5 linked regions of the Homo sapiens genome follow. The protein of the gene in region 4 purifies or fractionates together with the protein of the main gene of each other region. This does not show direct contact. Each region holds a gene or a part of one and is shown on either strand. Other genes may lie near its edges. The genes, in order: KLHL13, COL1A1, TNKS, TMEM44 and SPAG9.

Region 1 (4,594 bases), on a different chromosome or scaffold from region 4:
TAGAACATATTTTCCATTATAATTTTAACTACTCTTTTCAGGATGTGTTTCGTTTTTTCTCTACTTAAAATGACAATGATCAAAACTAGATATAATATGCTAGTAAGTTTGTTCTAATGTAGAATTTAGTTGAATTATTTGTTTATCAAATTCCTTTTAAATACCTGACAGTATCAATGTAGCTTTTTTTCACAATAGCATTATATTTCACTTGAAAGCTATTGACATCCAAGTAATTTTTATACAAATTATTCATAGCTTGTCTGGTTTCCATGTTATAATCCTGTAATATCAAGTCATATTCTATTCTGTTTTAATATGATCATTTTAAAATTTATCAAACTCATTAGATGTTTCAGACTTTCTTTGTTTCCTGGTATTAGATATGTACCTCTCTCTATTTAATAGAGGTTGAAGTTTTGATACATTGGGTAAGTTTAATACAGTGAAGAGAAAAAACATGTTTAAAAACATTAAACATTAAACATTAAAACATTAAACATTAAAAATAGCATTAAAATGCTATTTTCCAGCATCAAAATAGCATTAAATGACGCTATTTTTCCAGGATATGGAGAAGAAAATAAAGGAAGATATGGGGAGATTTATAGAAGAAGAAAGGGAAATATTAAAGAAATTGAGGACAGACAAACCCCTCTTAAATCAAACCCAAGGCACAGAGACAGAAAAGTAGAGAACTAAGATAAGTGTTGAGATAGAGAGACTGGAAAGATGATGAGTTTAAATCAACAGAAGCAGTTTTAAGGACATTCTGAAAAACTAATTAGAAACTGAACAATTTGCCTAAAGCAGAGCTGCATAGGTATATGGTATACTAGCATATGGAAACAGACAAAAATGTTCATGTAAATCTTTCAAGAAGAGTGAGTACAAGTTTGGTGAAAGAAAATGATTTTACAGTAAAAGGACTTATTTCGAGTGTGCAGGAATCTTTGAAAGGCTTCTTAAATAGGGGAAAAGATTTATGAGTGAAAGCAAAAAGTAGATATATAGAAGGCAGATGAGAATTTTGGAAGATAATGAACCTCTCTCTTTTTCTTTTAATGTATGCATACTTCACTAGAAGATTAGAGAATAAAAGGTGTTTAGAGAAATGACTGCCTTCTTGTACACAACAATGTGTATAGTCAGAAGGAGCTTCTCTTTAGACAGAACTGGGATATCTGGAAAATAATATACAAACAAGATGTTTAGAATTTGTTTGAAAACAATCTGAATTGACAGATATCATTTGGATAAAGATAGACATAACGTAGAATAAAATTCACTAATATGGAATTGGATAGTGGGGTCATTCATTTATGCATATAAAAATAAAGGTTATGAAATGTTTAGAAAGGGACACTGTATGTTGTGAAAATAAATGTAAAACCTTACAAAAGCAGATAACTTGCCAAAGGTAGATACATTAAGCGTGGAATAAAAGACACTCCGAATTTGTTAAAAATGCTCTAGGTGCCTTAACTTCTTTTCTTTTGGGACACCAGATTATACTGAGAAAGGTTAAAGGATTTTTTAAAAATGATAGTGTAAAGGGACACAAAATGATAAAATCTGTGAAAAGAATAAAAGCTCCCGGTGTCTTAGCTGAGCAAAGCTGTCCAGATCTTGAGCATTGATTACATACCTCCACAAGCAGTTTGAATGGAATATGGACAAAACAAGAAATTACACAGCTGACGATACATGATGCACAAGCTACTCCTCTTTTCAGAGGGAAAAAAAAGTAATATGTAGTAGGAATGGAACATACTGACATTATTCAATTCCAATTGTAAAATATTTGCAGGAATATTTTAAAGGCAGGAGGCTAGCAAATAAGCCAAGAAGGTTTTGTTTGTTTGTTTGTTTTTGTTCTTTAGTGGAAGAAAATAATGGATCAGATACAATCATTGCTTTTGAATAAATAATCCAGAATTTCTTTATAAAGATATTGTCTACGTATGCTTTAGAGAAGAAGAATAAAAAACTATTTGATAAATAAACATAAAGGGGGCATACAGTACCTAGACTCATCTCATTAGTATCTTGACATCTCTTTTTTATGCCAATGCCCAAGGTATGTTACTTTTCCCAAGAAAAATCAAATCCTTTAACTTGCCATTAGCTATTCAAAACTTTAAAAATAAATATCCTTCGAACCAACAACTCCAGTCCTGAGAATATCTCCCACAGATATACTTAGACAGCTAAGTGTATGTACAAGGAAGTTAATTGCGGCATTGCTTATAACTGCAGAATTTGAGGGAAAACCTGAGTGTTCAACTAAGCGGGAATGGATAAATAACTTATGACATGCCCCTACTGTAGATTACTGTGCATGCACTAAAAGAATGAAATAAATCCTGTGCACTGAGATAGAAGACTATCTGTGTTATCTGCTCAAGTGAATTTTAAAATGCACAACAGTATGTATAGTAACCCACTTTAAAGAGGCCTTTATATATTTTAATACAAGCATAATGTAGATTATGATATATAGAGAATGAGGTCTTGAAGTATGCTTACTAAACTGTTAACAGTGGTTACTTCTAGTAAGTGAAAGAGGTAGCCTTTAAGTTTTTAACTTATATCCTTCTGTATTTTGACTTCAAAAAACATACAAGCACATATTTAATTTTTTAAACCTGAAATTTATATGAGGGATAAAACAAACACAAGTTTGGGAGCCAACGTTTTCTCCCCAACTCCTGGTTCACTACCTTTTCTCTTACCTTAACCTTTACCACTACCACAAACTACCACAAACGAACACAAACGAACACTTTAAGCACAACTCATTTTATTATTGGGAGAGGTTTCACAAATAAGTTCCTGGTTTCCAGTTAACTTGTTGCAAAGTTTACATCCTACCCAATGTGACTACATGGCTTTAAAGTTACCAGTGGTAGCTTCTGAGTAAAATTTTGTTTGTTTGTTCATGCGTTAATGGAACATATATTAAGTACCAACAGTATGCCAAACACTGGGGAATTCAAAGATGCTAGTCTCTCAACTGTTTCAGCTGATGCTTGACTATCCTCTCCCACACCCTAGTGTCCTCATTCACTGCTTCCCAATACTCTACATTTGAAAGGTGATTCCCACAAATTTATTGCAATTTAGACCCCATATATCAATGCCGAGATCGCGCCACTGCACTCCAGCCTGGGCGACAGAGCGAGACTCTGTCTCAAAAAAACAAAACAAAAAAAGAGCTGAAGTGACTCTTCTCATGCCTTCAGCATGAGAATATTCCCTTAAAATTGGCATCTCTTTTTATAAGATGAGCTATTATTATTTTACTTCTACTTTTCTAAATAACAGAGACAGCAGACGAATTAGTAATGGAAAATAAAAATAGTGGCATAGGATATATAATGTTTGGGTTTACAAAGAAAAAGGGGCATTTGTGAAAGATTTGATATTTGTTAACATAAACATGTCAATCATTGTTGGAAAAAGAAAAATATGATATATAATCTTGTTTTAAAGTGTATGTATAATGTATAAATATTTTTGGAATAAAAATATTCATCTCTTTCCCTAGAGGGAGAGTGGCTGGATCAGATCATCTCTTTGAAGTTCCAGTTCTGTAATTCAAGCATTTTCTTTAAAAAGCTTTAAAATTAAAATGAGAAGCTTAACTAGGGTTTATACTACACATATGTGTAGGATCAATATTTTTAAAACTGCATTCTTAATATGTTATGCCTTTTGCTCTTTAAATCTGTGAAACAAAACATAGTTTTATTTGAAGTCATTAAAATATGAAGGGGACAGAGTAATCAATGCTGTTGGTTCTTACTGTATTATATTATTAGAAAGCAATTTGTGTATTTTGTGTATCTGTCTTCCTGGTTTTTTATAATGAAACATTTCTATCTTTGAAACTACAGACTCAATCTTGCCAAAATGTTCATTTTTTGTATCATTGTTAAATTGCATATTGTTCCCTTTTGGTGTACTTTAGTAGCCTGTTACAATCTTTTTAAATTCGTTATTCTTAATCGACAAATAAACATTATATATAATTTGTCATGTAAAACATGATATTTTAATCACATCATGGTAAATGGGGTATCCATCCCCTAAAGCATACATCTCTGTACCCACAAAAATTAAAAATAAAAGATAAAAATTGAAAAACATGATGTTTTGAAATATGTGTATGTTGTAGATTCAACCTGTTATAATCTTAAAAGTGATTGTCATTCTTCCAACTTATATCAATAGAACAACTGTCTATTTGTCGTTAGTTGAGACCATCAGGGTGTAGTGAAAAAGCTAATCAACAAGGATTCTTCTCACCAGAGCTCTGTCACTCCTCTGAATTGTGGCTGCTAGCCTGTTAATTCTCCACTAAACCTTTAGGCATTTGGAGACAATTAAGTCTCATGTTGGGGTTTCCTGGGCTTTTTTTTGTTTTTTTTCAAACAAAGATAATTAAGTCTCAAACTTGAAACTTGAAAGATATTTGGCCAGGCAGCAGCAATGTACTGAGTATAGGCTTCTCAAAGAGATGAAGTAATACAATTAGTAGAAAGAACTATCGTGTACTTAATACAGTTGCTCTCTACTTTTCTTTCTCAAC
Region 2 (3,500 bases), on a different chromosome or scaffold from region 4:
GACTCCAGGCTGTGTGTGGGCCCCTGCCCTGGTCTTTTCCCCCCACCCCACACCCTATCTCCATGGCTTTGGTCATGGCCCGCCATCCCCTGCTGCAGGAGGGGTGAGACCTGGTCCCTGGGCCACTTGCCAGAGCCCCTTCCACGCTGCCCTCACCTTAGCACCATCGTTGCCGGGAGCACCGTTGGCCCCTCGGGGACCAGCAGGACCAGGGGGACCTTGCACACCACGCTCGCCAGGGAAACCTCTCTCGCCCTAGAAGGGAAGGACAGGGCATGTGAAGGCTGCTCTGGAGATAGGGCCAAGTACGACGCACCTTGACGGATGCAGCGAGAGAGGCCTACTTACTCTTGCTCCAGAGGGGCCAGGGGCGCCAAGGTCTCCAGGAACACCCTGAGGGGGAGGGAGAGAGGAACAGACAGTGAGCAAAACCCACCTGGGGCCACTCTGCTGGAAAGCACGGTCCTTCCTCCTGGGGTCTGGCCGTGATTAGAGAGGAACCCCTTCTCAGCACTGAATTGAGATTATCCCAAACAGCCCCTCTCTTCCTCCTAGGGATGTGTCAAAGGCTTCCCCCCTCCCCAAACTATGGACCAAGATTTATCAATAGAAGGGTTGAGGGAAAGTCACAGCATATTCCAGCAGCTCTTAAAAGAAGTCACCCAGACTAGCAATCATGCAGCCCCCACTTCCCTCTGTGCTGCTCCCTTCATGGGAGGAAGTTCTTTCCGGCGTCTAACCTCAATCCCTCTAGTTGATGGCTGTCTGATTAGCTAGGAGCGGGGGCCTGTCCCTCTGGATTCCCTGCATCTCCCACCCCTCTGGCCGGCTGCTCCCTCTTACCTGTTCACCAGGTTTGCCTGCTTCACCTGGAGGACCAGCAGGACCAGGGAGACCCTGTAGGTGGGAAATGGGGGAAGAAGGGAGGGAAGGTTTAGAATCTGGAAGAGACCAAAGAGGTGTTTCCTACCCCTACCTCCCAGCATCCTGACAGCCATGAGGCCTCACCTGGAATCCGGGGGAGCCAGCAGGGCCTTGTTCACCTCTCTCGCCAGCGGGACCCTGCACAGAGAGAACACTACAGTCACGGGGAGGCCGAGGAGACGAGGGGCTGAGGGTGTCTCCCCTTTTCTGCTCCCCAGATCTCCCCATCAGGGACACTCACAGCAGGGCCAGGGGGTCCCTGAGCTCCAGCCTCTCCATCTTTGCCAGCAGGACCCTGCAGGGAGAGAGCAAAGGGGAACTCAGGGTTAGGAGGCCCCGAGCAGCTGAGGACCGTGGCCTCTAGCACCCCTCCTGCAGGGAGGAGAAAGTGCCGGGGCAGCAATGGGAAGGAGGTAGGGATGGAAAGGAGATACTTACGACAGCGCCAGGGGGTCCGGGAACACCTCGCTCTCCAGCCTTGCCGGGCTCTCCCTGTGGAGAAAGGGAGTTAGGGTTGAGGGGGCTGAAGTGAGAAGCCAGGGCCTCCTGGGGCCTCTCATTTACTCTGAGTGGGACTTTTTAAGGGACTTTCTTTTCAAAAGACTGTTTGGCCCCCGGGGAATGCCCCTGCAGGTGCTTCTTGCTGGGCCCTTTCTGAGCCCACTCCTCCCAAGATGCCCTTCCAGGCTCCTCTGCCTTTTCCCTGTTAGATGCCCGCTGTGGCCTGCACTGCAAAGGGCTTTCATCTTCTCTGCTATCTCCTTTTGGACCTCAAAGAATCCACCAAGACTGGGGGTGCCTATCATATCAAAGGCCTGTCCTATCCCCACGTGTCGGGGTGGAGGGCCACCAACAACACTTATTTCCAGGACAGAGCAGTGGTCATGGAGCCTGGAGAAGTGTTTCATTTTTTCTTTCTTTCTTTCTTCTTTTTTTTTTTTTTTGAGATGGAATCTCGCACTGTTGCCCAGGCTGGAGTGCAATGGCGTGATCTCAGCTCACTGCAACCTCCACCTCCCGGGTTCATGCAATTCTCCTGCCTCAGCCTCCTGACTAGCTGGGGTTACAGGTGCACACCACCACACCCAGCTAATCTTTTGTATTTTTAGTAGAGACGTGGTTTCACTATGTTGGCCCGACTGGTCTCAAACTCCTGACCTCATGGTCTGCCCGCCTTGGCCTCCCAAAGTGCTGGGATTACAGGCATGAGCCACCGTGCCCCGCCGAGAAGTCTTTCATTTTACAGATAGGGAGGCTGAGGTCCAGAAAGTGAGAGTGAGTGGCCACACGGCAGGTCAGCGGCACAGCTGAGCCCAGAGCCCAGGACTCCTTCAAGTCTCAGGTGTGTTTGTCCCTGGCTCTTCATGGATCCTCACTTAATACTCACAGCAGCACCTTTAGGTCCAGGGAATCCCATCACACCAGCCTGACCACGGGCACCAGGTGGGCCTGGGGGTCCGGGGCGACCATCTTGACCGGCGGGACCCTAAGGATGGGAGGCACGAAAGCAGCAGTGAGGACAGCAGGGAGGCAGACAGGACAATGGCAGGGGGTTCAGGGGGAGTGATACTTACAGGGGGGCCAGTTTTGCCATCAGGACCAGGGCTGCCAGGGCTTCCAGTCAGACCCTAGGGAGGCAGAGAGGTATGAGTGGGACTTGGGGAGAAGCATGATGGAGGTGGGGGAGGACTCCAGAGGGCAGACCCTTGGGCCTGATCCAGAACGCCTCATCCCAGACCCTACACGGGATGGTCAGGGCCTGGCCAAGCCAGGCTGAAAGCCTGGGGCCTCACCTTGGCACCAGGCAGACCAGCTTCACCGGGACGACCAGCTTCACCAGGAGATCCTTTGGGGCCAGCAGGGCCAGGAGAACCACGTTCACCAGCGGGACCCTGGTTGGGGGAAGTCACAGGAACAGTTAGGGTCTCAAGTTTGTGGCTCTTTGCCACGGGCCAAAAGAGGAAGAAGATGCCCAGGGAGCGGCAGGGTCAGCCCCCCGGCCGCAAGGAGAGGTTACCTTGGGACCAGCAACACCATCTGCGCCAGGGAAACCACGGCTACCAGGTCCACCCTGCAGGAGGAGAGGAGGCCAGTGAACTCCGCGACACACAGGCACCAGCCAGGCAATGAGGGTGGAGCGGGAGGGGGCGGGCAGGGACACTTACACGCTCGCCAGGGGGTCCGGGCAGGCCAGTGGGTCCGGGTTCACCTCGAGCTCCTCGCTTTCCTTCCTCTCCAGCAGGGCCAGGGGGTCCTTGAACACCAACAGGGCCCTGGAGAGGGCCGAGAGGAGGAGGCGGCCTGTGGTGAGGGGCCATCCTGTGCCAGCCTCAGAGCCGGCTGAGGCTGGGCCTCCAGTGTCAGGGGTTCCTGGGGGTGTGGCAGGGACTCCCCCAGAAGACTAGGGGCTCCTCTTCCTTTCTGGATTTCCCTCAGGGGGCTCCTAGGGCAGGGTGGGCTGGGCTGCAAGAAGGATGGCGGGGAGACTTACAGGCTCTCCCTTAGCACCAGTGTCTCCTTTGCTGCCAGGAGCACCAGGTTCACCCTGCAAGGGGGGAGAAGAGGATGAGCTGAGA
Region 3 (4,594 bases), on a different chromosome or scaffold from region 4:
CAAAATGAAGGGCATTATTCCTAATTTTTCAAGAGCATTATAAATGTCATTAGATATTTGCAAAAACGGGTCAAAGATAAATGTACAAAGCTCCTAAGTGTAGCAGAAATGTCACTTAGCTTAGTGTTTTCTGCTTGAAAGAGCAACAAGATGCTACTTATATAATAATGCAGTAGTTGTACCTACAAAATAGGTAATACATCTGTAGAACTCTGTTCCCTTTTATTCCACTTTGTCTTCATTTCATAAATTAAAAACATAAAGTGCCATTTTAAGGCAGTGATATCCAAATTTTTAAATCACACACCCTCCAGGTAGAAAAGTTTTGAGAACACTTAATATATATATATGAATTTCTTTGTAAATTATAACCAAGAAGTGCTATACTATTATAAAACTTACACAAAGAGAATTTATGAAGGATGAGAAAGAGATGAAATAATTAAAAATTTAAAAAGATTTCATGATTATTATTTTCTGAGATAGAGTACTGCTCTGTCACCCAGGCTACAGTGTAGTGGCATGATTACAGCTCACTACAGCCTCGACCTCTTGGGCTCAAGTGATTTTCCCACCTCAGCCTCCCGAGTAGCTGGGACTACAGGAATGCACCACCACATCTGGCTATTTTTTTTTATTATTTGTAGAGACGGGGTTGGCCTGTGTTGCCCAGCTGATCTCAAAATCCTGGGCTCAAGCGATCCTCCCACCTCAGTCTCCCAAAGTGCTGGGATTAAGGCATAGGCTATGGTACCTGTCCAAAACATATTTTAATTACTTATGCTAGAAAATATCCATTGACTGTAGTTTAAACATTTAAAAAAACTTATAAAAATTGTGATATTAGGAATTTGAGGGTTTAATTTTAGGTTCATTTCATTTTTCTTTAGAGACAGAGTCTTGCTCTGTTGCCCAGGCTGCAGTACAGTGGTATGATCATACCTCACTGCAGCCTCAAACTCCTGGGATCAAGTGATCTTCCTGCCTCAGCCTCCCGAGTCGCTAGGACTATAGGTGCACACCACCACGACTGGCTAATTTTTAAATTTTTTGTAGAGATAGTGTCTTGCTGTGTTGCCCAGGCTGGTGTCGAACTCCTGGCCTCAAGCAATCCTTCTGCCTTTGCCTCCTAAAGCTCTGGGATTACAGGAGTGATTACGGGCCACTACACGTGGCTCTAAGTTCATTTTTGATAATTAGTTTGAATGGCTATATTAGTTGCAAAGATTTCATACAGATTCATGGAGCCAATGAAATAAATGCATTGTTAACTATGCCTACTCAATCAGAATGCCTAATTTTAATGTAATTTACTAATTATGCTAAGGCTTTCATTGAAATTCTGTAGTAAAATTCCATCTTTACTGATGTTCTTGCGAAGTTATTAGGAAGTGCTGCATTACAATGTTTTGAATAGATTCAAAATCTACCCTAAAACCAAATTAAGGAAGGCTTTTGAACAGGTGAGAAAATTCTGTTTTTATGTGTTTAAATTATGTAGATATGACGGCTGGGTGATTCATTTATATCATTTTTCAGCAAAATCACAGAAAAGTGAACATTTTCTAAAAATCTATGTTCAAAACGTTCTCTTCATTTTTTAAAGTTTCTTTTAAAAAAGCAGTTATTTTATCATTTACCTAAAGTGTGTAACTTTTACCTTTAAGGATCTGATTATGTTTCCTTTTTAAAGGGTATCTACATGCAAGTCATGGTCATTTGTCCTCAGAGAACTATTAACAAATTTTGAACCCTTTTATTTTCATTAAAAAGAACACAACTATGACAACACCTTAAAATACTACTTCACAAAATAACCAGACCACCTTTTTACACTATAAAAGCATGTCAGGGTCACTCCCTGTGTCCCTTGTCAGGGTCACTACTCTGATCAAGTATGATATTTATAAAAGTTCTACCATTTAGGATAATATCCATAAATTCAACTCATTTGGACACAAGTAAAGTACACTATGCCAAAATATGCTGAAAGGGAACAAACAAGTGAGTTTGCCACTGTCAATCCCTCGATACTAACAAGTCCCACTCTTACCTCAGGAAACCTTGACATCACGAGTCACAATGGCTGACACGTGGACCTAGTGAGAGTGCTGGCATCATCTTTGTATTCAATATTGGTAAATCTGAATTTCCTTATTCTTAAATAAAAGTATTATAAATTGAAATGCTAGGATTTTTCCAACAGGGCATCTTGTATGCTCCATAGGGAGTCTATACCCTACTTTGGAGACAACTGCTTTGAAATATACATTCTTGAGAATGAAAAAATCTATAATTTCAAGTCACCTCTAAAAAACAACCAGTTTGCTTCTTTCCTCTCTTAAGTGCTTGACAAAGTTTCAGACTACACCATTCAGAAAATGCCAGTAAAAATTATTAAATATGTCATATTTCTTTAGTGTAGAGGTTGAGAAAATTATTACAAATCTGAAGGCATACAATTTTTTTTTTTGAGACAGATTCTCACTCTGTCTCCCAGGCTGGAGTGTAGTGGCGCAATCTCAGCTCACTGCAAGCTTCGCCTCCCAGGTTCATGCCATTCTCCTGCCTCAGCCTCCTGGGTAGCTGGGACTACAGGCACCCGCCACCACGCCCGGCTAATTTTTTGTATTTTTAGTAGAGACGGGGTTTCACCGTCTTAGCCAGGATGGTCTCCATCTCCTGACCTCGTGATCCACCTGCCTCGGCCTCCCAAAGTGCTGGGATTACAGGCGTGAGCCACTGTGCCTGGCCACAAATGTTTTTTAGAATAAGTAGAGCTATTCTGATGCTATCATTTAACATAATTTATTTTCTGATAAACTGTTATTCAAGTGGACACTATCAAAATATATCCGTATAGTATTAACTGAAAGTAATGTAAAGATGAAATCTATTTCAAATGACTATAGCTATATTTTGTTGCTTTACAGAAGGGTGACATTAAAGGATCAAGAAACACGGGTAATTATTTTTATTAGAAACAAGATCTAAATCAGCTTTATAGGAGAATCCATGAATTTAAGTACGAACTAATAGTCCTTTATAAAATTAGTTTCTTCAGAAAAATCGGAGAGAGAGAAGCAGTGTTAAGAGCAGCTGGCTGCTCAGTGCTGAGTCTGGCACTCTGCTCAGGTGTGTGCCTCACCTTGGCGCCATGCTTATGCAGAACTTCCATGACATCATTATGGGCTCTTTCGGCTGCAACATGCAGGGGAGTCATGAAACTACAGAAAAGAGGAAAGAAAGAAAAGGTAATTGTCTCTCTTTTATTGCATTTCCTCTTTAGGAACTGAACAACTCCTTCTGCAATTATACTTACTCTTTATTTTTTTCATTAACATTTGCTCCTTTTCTAAGTAACAATTCTGTCACTTGTTTACGTTTGGGATGCAGAGAGGCCACAGCACAGTGCTATAAAGTAAACAAAACCAAGTTAATAAAATACACTTCCATATGTACAGTAGCTCTTGGAATTGAACAGTATCTGCTGACCATTTAAAACATTGTTATCTCAGAGTATCAGAACATATGTATATGTTTTATATCACAGAGATGATCCATATTCTTTCTACGTATAGTGGAAATACAAAACGTAAGCGTTTAAACCAAGGTGAAATTATGCTCTTAAACATTAAGAGAGATCTTATTTCTTTTGGCTTAGCCAATCAATAAATATTCACTATATATTCCATGGAGAGCATCATAATACGTATGCCTCTGCAACGCTACAGAAATCTATAACTAAGTTACTCAATCTTTCATTAGGCCATCAGCCACACAAGTCAGTATTTCTAAGCTCTTCTACAGAGGTACTCCCAGCACTACAGGAGACGTTTATATGCCCAAGGATAAGCAAGAAAATGATAGAACTGAAGCAGTTTAGAGAAAAATATTCTCAGAAATTTTAGGTTTTAACATAATATTTATACAACTTTTTTATTCTGCTTCATTTTAATATTCGTATTAAAATTTAAAAATAAAAAACTACTTTCAACTAAATAAAATGAAAACTCCAAAAAAGTGGGTCAGGTTTATTCTGTGGCTATGAATATCTCCTAGCATAACACCGTGTAGCTTGAATCTATCTCAACCCTAGTTTGAGAGACATGTATTTAAGTGTACATATAGTTAGCCTATTTCAGTTTGGTCAATCCTTTAATGTTGTTTTATGCAGATACTGACAAACGTTTGATCTTTTGTGTCAAATATACGTAAGAATATTAATTAGGTATATTTAAGGTCTGTGATGCAGGCATCACATATGCTTAAATTCTGAATTTAGGAGCGATCACTAACCACTCTCTAGCTGAGCCTTAATGTGTCAATGACAAAGAAAATAAATAAATCTTTCCGAAAGTGCATTTGAAGAAAAAAACGTGGATAGTTTTAAGAATAATTTGTATAGTATCAAACAAAAAATTCATGATCTTGCCATTTTTCTACCATGAATATAATCAGTTCTTTGAATACAATTGCTCAAAAAGATAATGCAAATATCTAAAAATATACTTTAATCTTCTACAGAAGGAAATCTAGTATTTATCTAGCAAACATAAGAAAAAAAAATTCTATTGAAAAATCATATCTTGTA
Region 4 (4,594 bases):
GCATGCCAACACGTCTGGCTAATTTTTGTTATTTTTAGTGGAGACTAAAAATGTTTGTATTTTTAGATGCTGACTGTGGTTAATGGCTGTGGCGTGTTGGTGGTGGGGTGTGTGTGAAGGCAAGGCAGGGCCACGCCGTCTGCAGGCGCTAAGAGGGGAATCTTCGCTTGCCTCTTCCAGCTGCCAGTGGAGCTGCAGGAGCTGCTAGTGGCTCCTGGTGTCCCTTGATGCATGGCAGTGTCGTTTACATTTCTGCCTTGCCCTTCATGTGGCCTTCTTCCCTTTGTGTATCTTCGTGTGTCTCCTTTTCTTATAGGGACCCCAGCTGTTGGAGTTAGGGCCCAGTCCAATCCACTATGACTTCATTGTCTAATTGTATCAGCAAGGACCCTACTTCCGAATAAGGTCACAGTCTGGGCCGGGCACGGTGGCTCACGACTGTAATCCCAGCACTTTGGGAGGCCAAGATGGGAGGATCATCTGAGATCAGGAGTTTGAGACCAGCCTGGCCAACATGGTGAAACCCGGTCTCTACTAAAAATACGAAAATTACCCGAGCATGATGGCAGGTGCCCGTAATCCCAGCTACTTGGGAGGCTGAGGCGAGAGAATCGCTTGAACCAGGGAGGCAGGGGTTGCAGTGAGCTAAGATCATACCACCGCACTCCAGCCTGGGTGACAGAGCGAGACTCTGTCTCAAAAAAAAAAAGGGGGTCACATTCAGAGGTGGATCTGAATTTTGAGGGACACTATTCAACCCACTGCATGTATTGTCACTGTAAGCCAGGCCTGTCAAGAAAGACGTTTTCCAAAATGCTTTAGTTTTGCAAATATTTACCATGTCCTTGTTAGGGACAGGGTCACATTGGATGCTGGGCCCTCGTGAGGACAGGAACATCCACCCTAGCCCTGTCTTCAGATGAGCTCCTCTCTGTCCCAGGCAGGATAATACAGGGGAGGGAGGAGAGTAGGTGAGTGGGGAGGGGGGTGGCAGCATGGTGTGGAGGGGTGAAGGGCCACGCTAGGCAGCTGGAATATTCTGCTTCCTACCTTAACTTACACCATCTCAGATTATTTTCCTTTCGTGTGTGATGAAGAGCAAGATGAGACAGGCCTTAGGATTTGCCAAGGAAGCCAGAGAGAGCCCTGACACCCAAGCCCTTTTGACCTGTGCAGAGAAAGAGGAAGAAAACCAGGAGGTGAGGAACGAGGACAAGGTCTCTCTGGCTGGAAAACTCTGGTCCCAGCAACAGTATCTTGAGAAACAGCAGGATACTGCGGACGGACGTGTGAAAGCTGCCTGCCGAGTGTTCTCTGCAGGCGACTCAGACAGCTGTCCTGTCTCGCTGAGGGAATAGTGGCCAAACCTAACACATGACATGTAACGGGCCCTTCCTGTTTACTGGCATGGAGTGGACGGGGCATTGAGCCTCCATGAGGGCCGGGGCTTGGGAATTCCAGAAGTCCCTCCCTGCTTGCCCAGTTGGTCGCTTTATTTTTATTTTTTTTTAATCTATTGATTGATTGAGATGGAGTCTTGCTCTGTTGCCCAGGCTGGAGTGCAGTAGCACAATCTCAGCTCACTGCAACCTCCGCCTCCCAGATTCAAGTAATTCTCCTGCCTCAGCCACCCAAGTAGCTGGGATTACAGGCACATGTCACCACGCCCGGCTAATATTTTGTATTTTTAGTAGAGACAGATGGGGTTTCACCATGTTGGCCAGGCTGGTCTCGAACTCCTGACCTCAGGTGATCTGCCCACCTTGGCCTCCCAAAGTGCTGGGATTACAGGCATAAGCCGTGGTGCGTAGCCCAGTTGGTCACTTTAAAAAGCTACTGTCTATGTTCAAAGCTAAGGGAAGCCTGAATGCCATAGGATCCTCCGGTTTCGCAATTATACAAATGTTTTGAAGTTTTTTGGTCACTTAATGGCTTATATTTTTAGCAATGTAGATGGAATAGTCGCATGCCCACTTGAAGCTTTTGAATAATTTACTTACTGGTAGTTAAGTTCACATGCTACATACCTTAATATATTCATTTTTAAATAATGTGATTTTTGGCCGGGTGCAGTGGCTCATGCCTGTAATCCCAGCACTTTGGGTGGCCAAGGCAGGCAGATTGCTTGAGCTCAGGAGCTCAAGACTAGCCTGGGCAACAGGGTGAAACCCCGTCTCTACCAAAAATACAAAAAAAATTGGCCGGGTATGGTGGTGTGTGCCTGTAGTCCCAGCTACTTAGGAGGCTGAGGCAGGAGGATCTCTTGATCCTGGAGGCAGAGGTTGCAGTGAGCCAAGATGGCGCCACCGCACTACAACCTGAGCTGCAGAGTGAGACCCCATCTCAAAAACATAAGTAAATTATGTGATTTTCACTCATATTTCTTCAAAAACTGTATTCCCACTTTCACATGCATCTTTAATATCCACATCATTACCACCACCTAACACGGTGCTCCAGAGCCTGTCGTCATGCCCAGCTACATGATCCAGCCTTTGGAAATCGGCTTGTGATGCTGCCTCTAGAAAGTCCTCTCAAGCCACGAGGACCCATTTGCTGTTTGTGGTCACTGCAATGTAACTACTTACTCTATTCCTTGTGGTTTTTTTGGTTTTTTGTTTTGTTTTGTTTTATTTTGTTTTTTGGAGACGGAGTTTTGCTCTTGTTGCCGAGGCTGGAGTGCCGTGGCACGATCTCGGCTCACCACAACCTCCGCCTCCCGGGTTCAAGCGATTCTCCTGCCTCAGCCTCCCAAGTAGCTGGGATTACAGGCATGCACCACCATGCCCGGCTAATTTTGTATTTTTAGTAGAGACTGGGTTTCTCCATGTTGGTCAGGCTGGTCTCAAACTCCCAACCTCAGATGATCCGCCCACCTCGGCTTCCCAAAGTGCTGGGATTACAGGTGTGAGCCACCGGGCCCGGCCTATTCTGTTTTTTTATGCTAGAAATCTGATCTTTAAGTGTTGTTTAGGAGGTCATGTGCAGTGGCTCACGCCTGTAATCCCAACACTTTGGGAGGCCGAGGTGGGTGCATCATGAGGTCAGGAGTTCGAGACCAGCCTGACCAACGTGGTGAAACTCCTGTCTCTACTAAAAATACAAAAATTAGCTGGGTGTGGTGGCACGCGCCTGTAATTCCAGCTACTCAGGAGGCTGAGGCAGGAGAATCGCTTGAACCTGGGAGGCGGAGGTTGCAGTAAGCCAAAATCGCACCATTGCACTCCAGCCTAGGCAACAAGAGCAAAACTCCGTCTCGAAAAAAAACTTTTTTTTTAAAGTGTTCATTAAGCCAGGCATGGTGCCTCATGCCTGTAATGCCAGCACTTTGGGAGGCCGAGATGGGCAGATTGCCTGAGCTCAAGAGTTCGAGACCAGCCTGGGCAACGTGGTGAAACTCCGTCTCTACTAAAAATACAAAAATCAGCTGGGCGTGGTGGCGGGCACCTGTAATCCCAGCTACTCAGGAGGCTGAGACATGAGAATCACTTGAACCCAGGAGGCGGAGGTTGCAGTGAGCCGGGATCGTGCCACTGTACTCCAGCCTGGGCAATAAAGTGAAAATCTGTCTCAAGAAAATAAATAAATAAATAAATAAAAATAAAAAATAAGTGTTGTTTACAGCAATATCAAACCTTTACAATTATGTCATGCCACCGGCTAAAGTTAATGCGTCTCCTTTTATTGATTTAAACAGATGACCTCTACAAGTAGTCAGAACTTACTCTAATTGAGGCCATTTGTCTTCATCAAAAGTTTTTGGTTCCAAATAATTGAGAAAGTAACTCAAAGAAAGCTTGTAAGGACTTGAATATAGGCTGGGTGCAGTGGTTCAGGCCTGTAGTCCCAGCACTTTGGGAGGCAGAGGCGGGCGGATCACGAGGTCAGGAGATCGAGACCACAGTGAAACCCCGTCTCTACTAAAAATACAAAAAATTAGCTGGGCGCGGTGGCGGGTGCCTGTAGTCCCAGCTACTCGGGAGGCTGAGGCAGGAGAATGGCGTGAACCCAGAAGGCGGAGCTTGCAGTGAGTCGAGATCCCGCCACTGCACTCCAGCCTGGGCGACAGAGCGAGACTCCGTCTCAAAAAAAAGGACTTGAATATAAAATGGCTCCCTCTTTTCTAAGATTTCAATTTTTTTTTTTTTTTGGAAAAAACTCTCATCTATTACCTGGGCTCTTCACTACCTTAGACTCCTCTCACAGAGAGTGGGTGTGAGGCTGTGAGTAACTTCCTCCGTGGCCAGGATGGAGGAAGTGATGGGGAGTGCATTTGGACCGACAAAAACAAAAACTGCCCCTCCGAATGTTCTCCAAATGGCTTAACCATGTGATCCGACTGAGTCCGTGAAATAGAAGATCGTGGTGTATGTGACGCAGAGGAAAGCATTTTTTATATAGGTGCCCAGACCAAAGAGCCACGTTCCCATGAGGCCCTAGTGGGAAGTTATTTTCATTTCTTTCTAGCAACTGTTAGGAAATTATATTCCAAAAGGGGGCCAAAATATTAACAGAGCCCTGTGTGTCTTGGAATTCTGAAGAGAGAAGTAGAAGCCTCTGGAGTCTCTAGCAGTTCTTCAGAGCAGTGGTTCTC
Region 5 (4,594 bases), on a different chromosome or scaffold from region 4:
TCTGGGAGGCGGAGGTTGCAGTGAGCTGAGATCGCACCATTGCGCTCCAGCCTGGGCAACAAGTGTGAAATGCCATATCAAAAAAAAAAAAAAAAAAGAAAGAAAAGAAAAAGCAAATAGGTTGGCCGGGCACAGTGTCTCACACCTGTAATCCCAGCACTTTGGGAGGCCAAGGCAGGTGGATCACCTGAGGTTAGGAGTTCAATACCAGCCTGGACAACATGGTAAAACCCCATCTCTATTAAAAATACAAAAGTTAGCGAGGTGTGGTTGTGAGCACCTGTAGTCCCAGCTACTCAGGAGGATGAGGCAGGAGAACTGCTTGAACCCGGGAGGCAGAGGTTGCAGTGAGCCAAGATCGCGCTACTGCACTCCAGCATGGGTGGCAAAGCAAGACCCCATCTCAAAAAAAAAAAAAACAACAACAACAAAAGAAAATAGGTTGGGTGCAGTGGCTCACACCTGTAATCACAGCACTTTGGGAGGCTGAGGTGCGAGGAATGTCTGAGCCCAAATATTCAAGATCAGCCTGGGCAACATGGGAAACCCATTTCTACAAAAAATACAAAAATTAGCCAGGCATGGCGGCATGATCCTGTAGTCCCAGCTATTCCGGAAGTTGAGATGGGAGGATCGCTTGAACCCAGGAGGCAGAGGTTGCAGTCAGCCGGGATTACACCACTGCACTCTGGCCTGGGCAACAGAGTGAGATCTCGTCTCAATCAATCAATCAAAAGATCTATAAAAATATTAAAATATGTGTTTTTTAGGCCAGGTGCGGTGGCTCACGCTTGTAATCCCAGCACTTTGGGAGGCCGAGGCAGGGGGATCACCTGAGGTCAAGAGTTTGAGACCAGCCTGGACAACATGGTGAAACCCCTTCTCTATTAAAACTACAAAAATTAGCCGGGCGTGCTGGCGCGTGCCTGTAATCCCAAACTACTAGGGAGGCTGAGGCAGGAGAATTGCTTGAACCTGGAAGGTGGGAGTTACAGTGATCTGAGATCGCACCACTGCACTCCAGCCTGGGCGACAGCACAAGACTCTGTCTCAAAAATAAATTTTTTAAAAAATGGGCCAGGCATGGTGGCTCATGCCTGTAATCCCAACACTTTGGCAGGCCAAGGTAGGCAGATAACAAGGTCAGGAGTTCAAGACCAGCCTGGCTAACATGGTGAAACCCCATCTCTACTAAAAATACAAAAAGTAGCTGGGCATGGTGGCTCATGCCTATAATCCCAGCTACTCAGAAGGCTGAGACAGAAGAACTGCTTGAATCCAGAAGGCAGAGGTTGCAGTAAGCCAAGATCGTGCCTCTGCACCCCAGCCTGGGCAACAGAGCGTGAAACTCAGTCTCAAAAATAAATAAAATTAAAAAATAAAATATCAAGTGTGGGCCAAGTGTGGTGGCTCACGCCTGTAATCCCAGCACTTTGGGAGGTTGAGGCAGATGAATCACTTGAGGTCAGGAGTTTTACACCACCCTGGCCAACATGGTGAAACCCTGTCTCTACTGAAAATACAAAAATTAGCCGGGTGTAGTGGTGCACACCTGTAATCCCAGCTACTCAGGCAGCTGAGGCAGGAGAATTGCTTGAACCTGGGAGGCAGAGGTTGCAATGAGCTGGGATAGTGCCACTGCACTCCAGCCTGGGTGACAGAGTGAGACTCTGTCTCAAAAAAAAAAAAAATTATGAATGAATGAGAACACTAAAACAAGAACAATGAATGTCAATACCTATTTTCCTGCCCATGAGTCTTACGGGTCCCATGTTCATACACTTCCAAAGACAAGAAGTGTCAAAAGTCTCCATTTAAACAAAAATCATTTTGTTACTGCTTTAAGTGCTGATTCCATGGGAACAAGTTAGAAAATTCTCAGTAGTGTCTCTCACCTCTGCATTCAGTCATCCTATTGTTTTGTTTTTTGGTAAGAAACAGGGTCTTGCCCTGTTGTCAAGGCTGGAGTGCCGTGGCCATGATAACTCACTGCAGTCTCAAACTCCTGGGCTTAAGTGATCCTCCTGCCTTAGCCTCCTGAGTAGCTAGGACTACAGGCTCACACCATCACACCCAACTAATTTTTTTTATGGTTTTTGGGGAAGAGGGGTCTCACTACGTTGCCCAGGCTTGAACTCATCCTTTTTTTTTTTTTTTTAAAGCAAAAGGCCACAAAAAAGCAGACACAAAATCACATAATCCATTCCCAGTAAAGATATTCTCTCTTCAGTCCATTCTCTGCATGTATGAGTCTATCTCAAAAAGGAGGGAAGGAGCCAGGCGCGGTGGTTCACAGTGGCAATCCCAGCACTTTAGGAGGCCAAGGCGGGCGGATCACCTGAGGTCAGGAGTTCAAGACCAGCCTGACCAACATGCAGAAACCCCAACTCCACTAAAAATACAAAATTAGCCAGGCGTGGTGGCGCATGCCTGTAATCCCAGCTACTTGAGAGGCTGAGGCAGGAGAACTGTTTGAACCCAGGAGGCGAAGGTTGCAGTGAGCCGAGATGGCACCATTGCACTCTAGCCTGGGCAACAAGAGAAACTCCATCTCAAAAAAAAAGAAAAGAAAAGAAAAGAAAAGAAAAAGAAAAGGAAGGAAGACAATGCCTCTTCGTTTTTATGTGTAATCTCCCTCTACTGAATGATGCTAAATGAGCTCTCACTTTGAGAATAACAGTGATAACATAAAAGACCCACAGAATCACTAAGAACTAAATTCCTAAAGGTTCTTTAAACTCGTATGTCTACTTTTCAGAAGTTTCTTTTTTTTTTCTTTTTTCTTTTTTGAGAGGTAGTCTCACTCTACTGCCCAGGCTGGAGTACAGAGGCACGATCCCAGCTCACTGCAACCTCCATCTCCCGGGTTCAAGCAATTCTTCTGCATCAGCCTCCCCAGTAGCTGGGATTACAGGCACCCACCACCACACCCAGATAATTTTTGTATTTTTAGTACAGACAGGGTTTCATCATGTTGGCGAGGCTGGTCCCACACTCCTGACCTCAAGTGATCCATCTGCCTCGGCCTCCCAAAGTGCTGGGACTATAGATGTGAGCCACCACACCTGGCCCTTTTTTAAAAGTTACAGCAAATCATGCCTGTTTTAAAAGAATCAGAAGTTGCAGAAAAACCCTAACATACCCAGTTATAACCTCTCTCTCCAGATCATTTTGTATCCAGATTTTTATTTTAAAAAATCACTGGGCTGGGGCACAGTGGCTCACCCCTGTAAGTCCCAACACTTTGGCAGGATCCACAAGGCAGGAGGATCACTTGAGCCCAGGAGTTCCAGACCAGACTGGGCAACACAGTGAGACCTTGTCTCTGTAAAAAATTTAATTAGCCCAGTGTGGTAACGCATGTCTGTGGTCCTAGCTACTCAGGAGGCTGAGGCAAGAGGATCACTTGAGCCCAAGAGATTGAGGCTGCAGTGAACTGTGACTGTGCCACTACACCCCAGCCTAGGCGATTGAGACTCTGTCTCCAAAAAGAATTTAAATTTAAAAGTCACTGATTTTAAAATAAATTATTCAATAGGTTCACAGGGCTTATTCTGGATAGAGTCAACAGGATGTTCTGGCTGAAAAAGTGAAATTGAAACAGAGTAGAAAGTGAGGAGCTAGCTATGTAAAATTCTAAGGAGAGCATTCTAGAGCATGGGCAAAGGCATCAGACGGGTCTTGGTTAAAGAATGGAGAGGTGTGTCACAGGCAGCCCAAAGGAGAGAGTGATGGGCGATAAGATGACAGATTTCTTGATTAGCATCTGAAACCGGTCCAAATCTATCTAAAATTAGCCCTTCTTTAGGTTGTTTTTAAAGAATCCCTAAAACAGCAGACTAGCTCCACACTAGAAATTCAAATAAAAGCAAAGGAAAAAGTCAGAAGGTATTCAAAATATGTCCTATCAATATAAAGATTAAATTTTTGATGCCTTGCTGAGAATTCCTGCAAGCAAGAGATCATAGCACCTCACACATTCCTAAAACATTCTATCTACATACCCACCTAAGTTTCCACAGAGGTGCTCAGAATTTACTTTACTCTCTCTGGTGATGGATAATTTCCATGCTTTCAAATCACTTTTGCTGTAAATACCCTGAGGCACTTACTTTGGTATAAAAGACTCTTGGTCTCCGCATTAAAGACACAAACAGGCCGGCACGGTGGCTCATGCCTGTAATCCCAGCACTTTGGGAGGCTGAGGCGGGCAGATCACGAGGTCAGGAGATTGAGACTATCCTGGCTAAAATGGTGAAACCCCGTCTCTACCAAAAATACAAAAAAATTAGCCAGGCGTGGTGGCACGTGCTTGTAATCCCAGCTACTCAAGAGGCTGAGGCAGAATCGCTTGAACCCGGGAGGCGGAGGCTGCAGTGAGTCAAGATTGTGCCACTGCACTCCAGCCTGGGTGACAGAGCAAGACTCCGTCTCAAAAAAAAAAAAAAAAAAAAAAAAGGCGCAAACAAAGCACTCACAGAAAACTAAACACAGAATTCACTCTACATATTGGCCAAAGGGAGACAATTTCTGGATACTGAGCAACACACAATTTATGATCTTATGTGAAAACTGATGGCCGGGTGTGGTGGCT

What was found.
Region 1: the proteins of TMEM44 (region 4) and KLHL13 purify together in Homo sapiens (affinity purification with mass spectrometry; one large-scale study listed by BioGRID and IntAct). This does not show direct contact.
Region 2: the proteins of TMEM44 (region 4) and COL1A1 purify together in Homo sapiens (affinity purification with mass spectrometry; one large-scale study listed by BioGRID and IntAct). This does not show direct contact.
Region 3: the proteins of TMEM44 (region 4) and TNKS purify together in Homo sapiens (affinity purification with mass spectrometry; 2 studies listed by BioGRID and IntAct, with this or other methods). This does not show direct contact.
Region 5: the proteins of TMEM44 (region 4) and SPAG9 purify together in Homo sapiens (affinity purification with mass spectrometry; 2 studies listed by BioGRID and IntAct, with this or other methods). This does not show direct contact.

Annotation. Positions count from the first base shown.
Region 1 is NC_000023.11:117,920,806-117,925,399, reverse strand, and holds part of KLHL13 (kelch-like protein 13), read left to right. Parts: intron 1-4,594. UniProt on the Homo sapiens protein: Substrate-specific adapter of a BCR (BTB-CUL3-RBX1) E3 ubiquitin-protein ligase complex required for mitotic progression and cytokinesis.
Region 2 is NC_000017.11:50,191,632-50,195,131, forward strand, and holds part of COL1A1 (collagen alpha-1(I) chain preproprotein), read right to left. Parts: intron 3,470-3,500; coding exon 3,416-3,469; intron 3,198-3,415; coding exon 3,090-3,197; intron 2,996-3,089; coding exon 2,942-2,995; intron 2,817-2,941; coding exon 2,718-2,816; intron 2,553-2,717; coding exon 2,499-2,552; intron 2,411-2,498; coding exon 2,312-2,410; intron 1,417-2,311; coding exon 1,363-1,416; intron 1,220-1,362; coding exon 1,166-1,219; intron 1,063-1,165; coding exon 1,009-1,062; intron 898-1,008; coding exon 844-897; intron 394-843; coding exon 349-393; intron 256-348; coding exon 157-255; intron 1-156. UniProt on the Homo sapiens protein: Type I collagen is a member of group I collagen (fibrillar forming collagen).
Region 3 is NC_000008.11:9,708,775-9,713,368, reverse strand, and holds part of TNKS (poly [ADP-ribose] polymerase tankyrase-1), read right to left. Parts: intron 3,415-4,594; coding exon 3,323-3,414; intron 3,228-3,322; coding exon 3,149-3,227; intron 1-3,148.
Region 4 is NC_000003.12:194,612,174-194,616,767, reverse strand, and holds part of TMEM44 (transmembrane protein 44), read left to right. Parts: intron 1-1,070; coding exon 1,071-1,199; intron 1,200-4,594.
Region 5 is NC_000017.11:51,113,275-51,117,868, forward strand, and holds part of SPAG9 (C-Jun-amino-terminal kinase-interacting protein 4), read right to left. Parts: intron 1-4,594. UniProt on the Homo sapiens protein: The JNK-interacting protein (JIP) group of scaffold proteins selectively mediates JNK signaling by aggregating specific components of the MAPK cascade to form a functional JNK signaling module.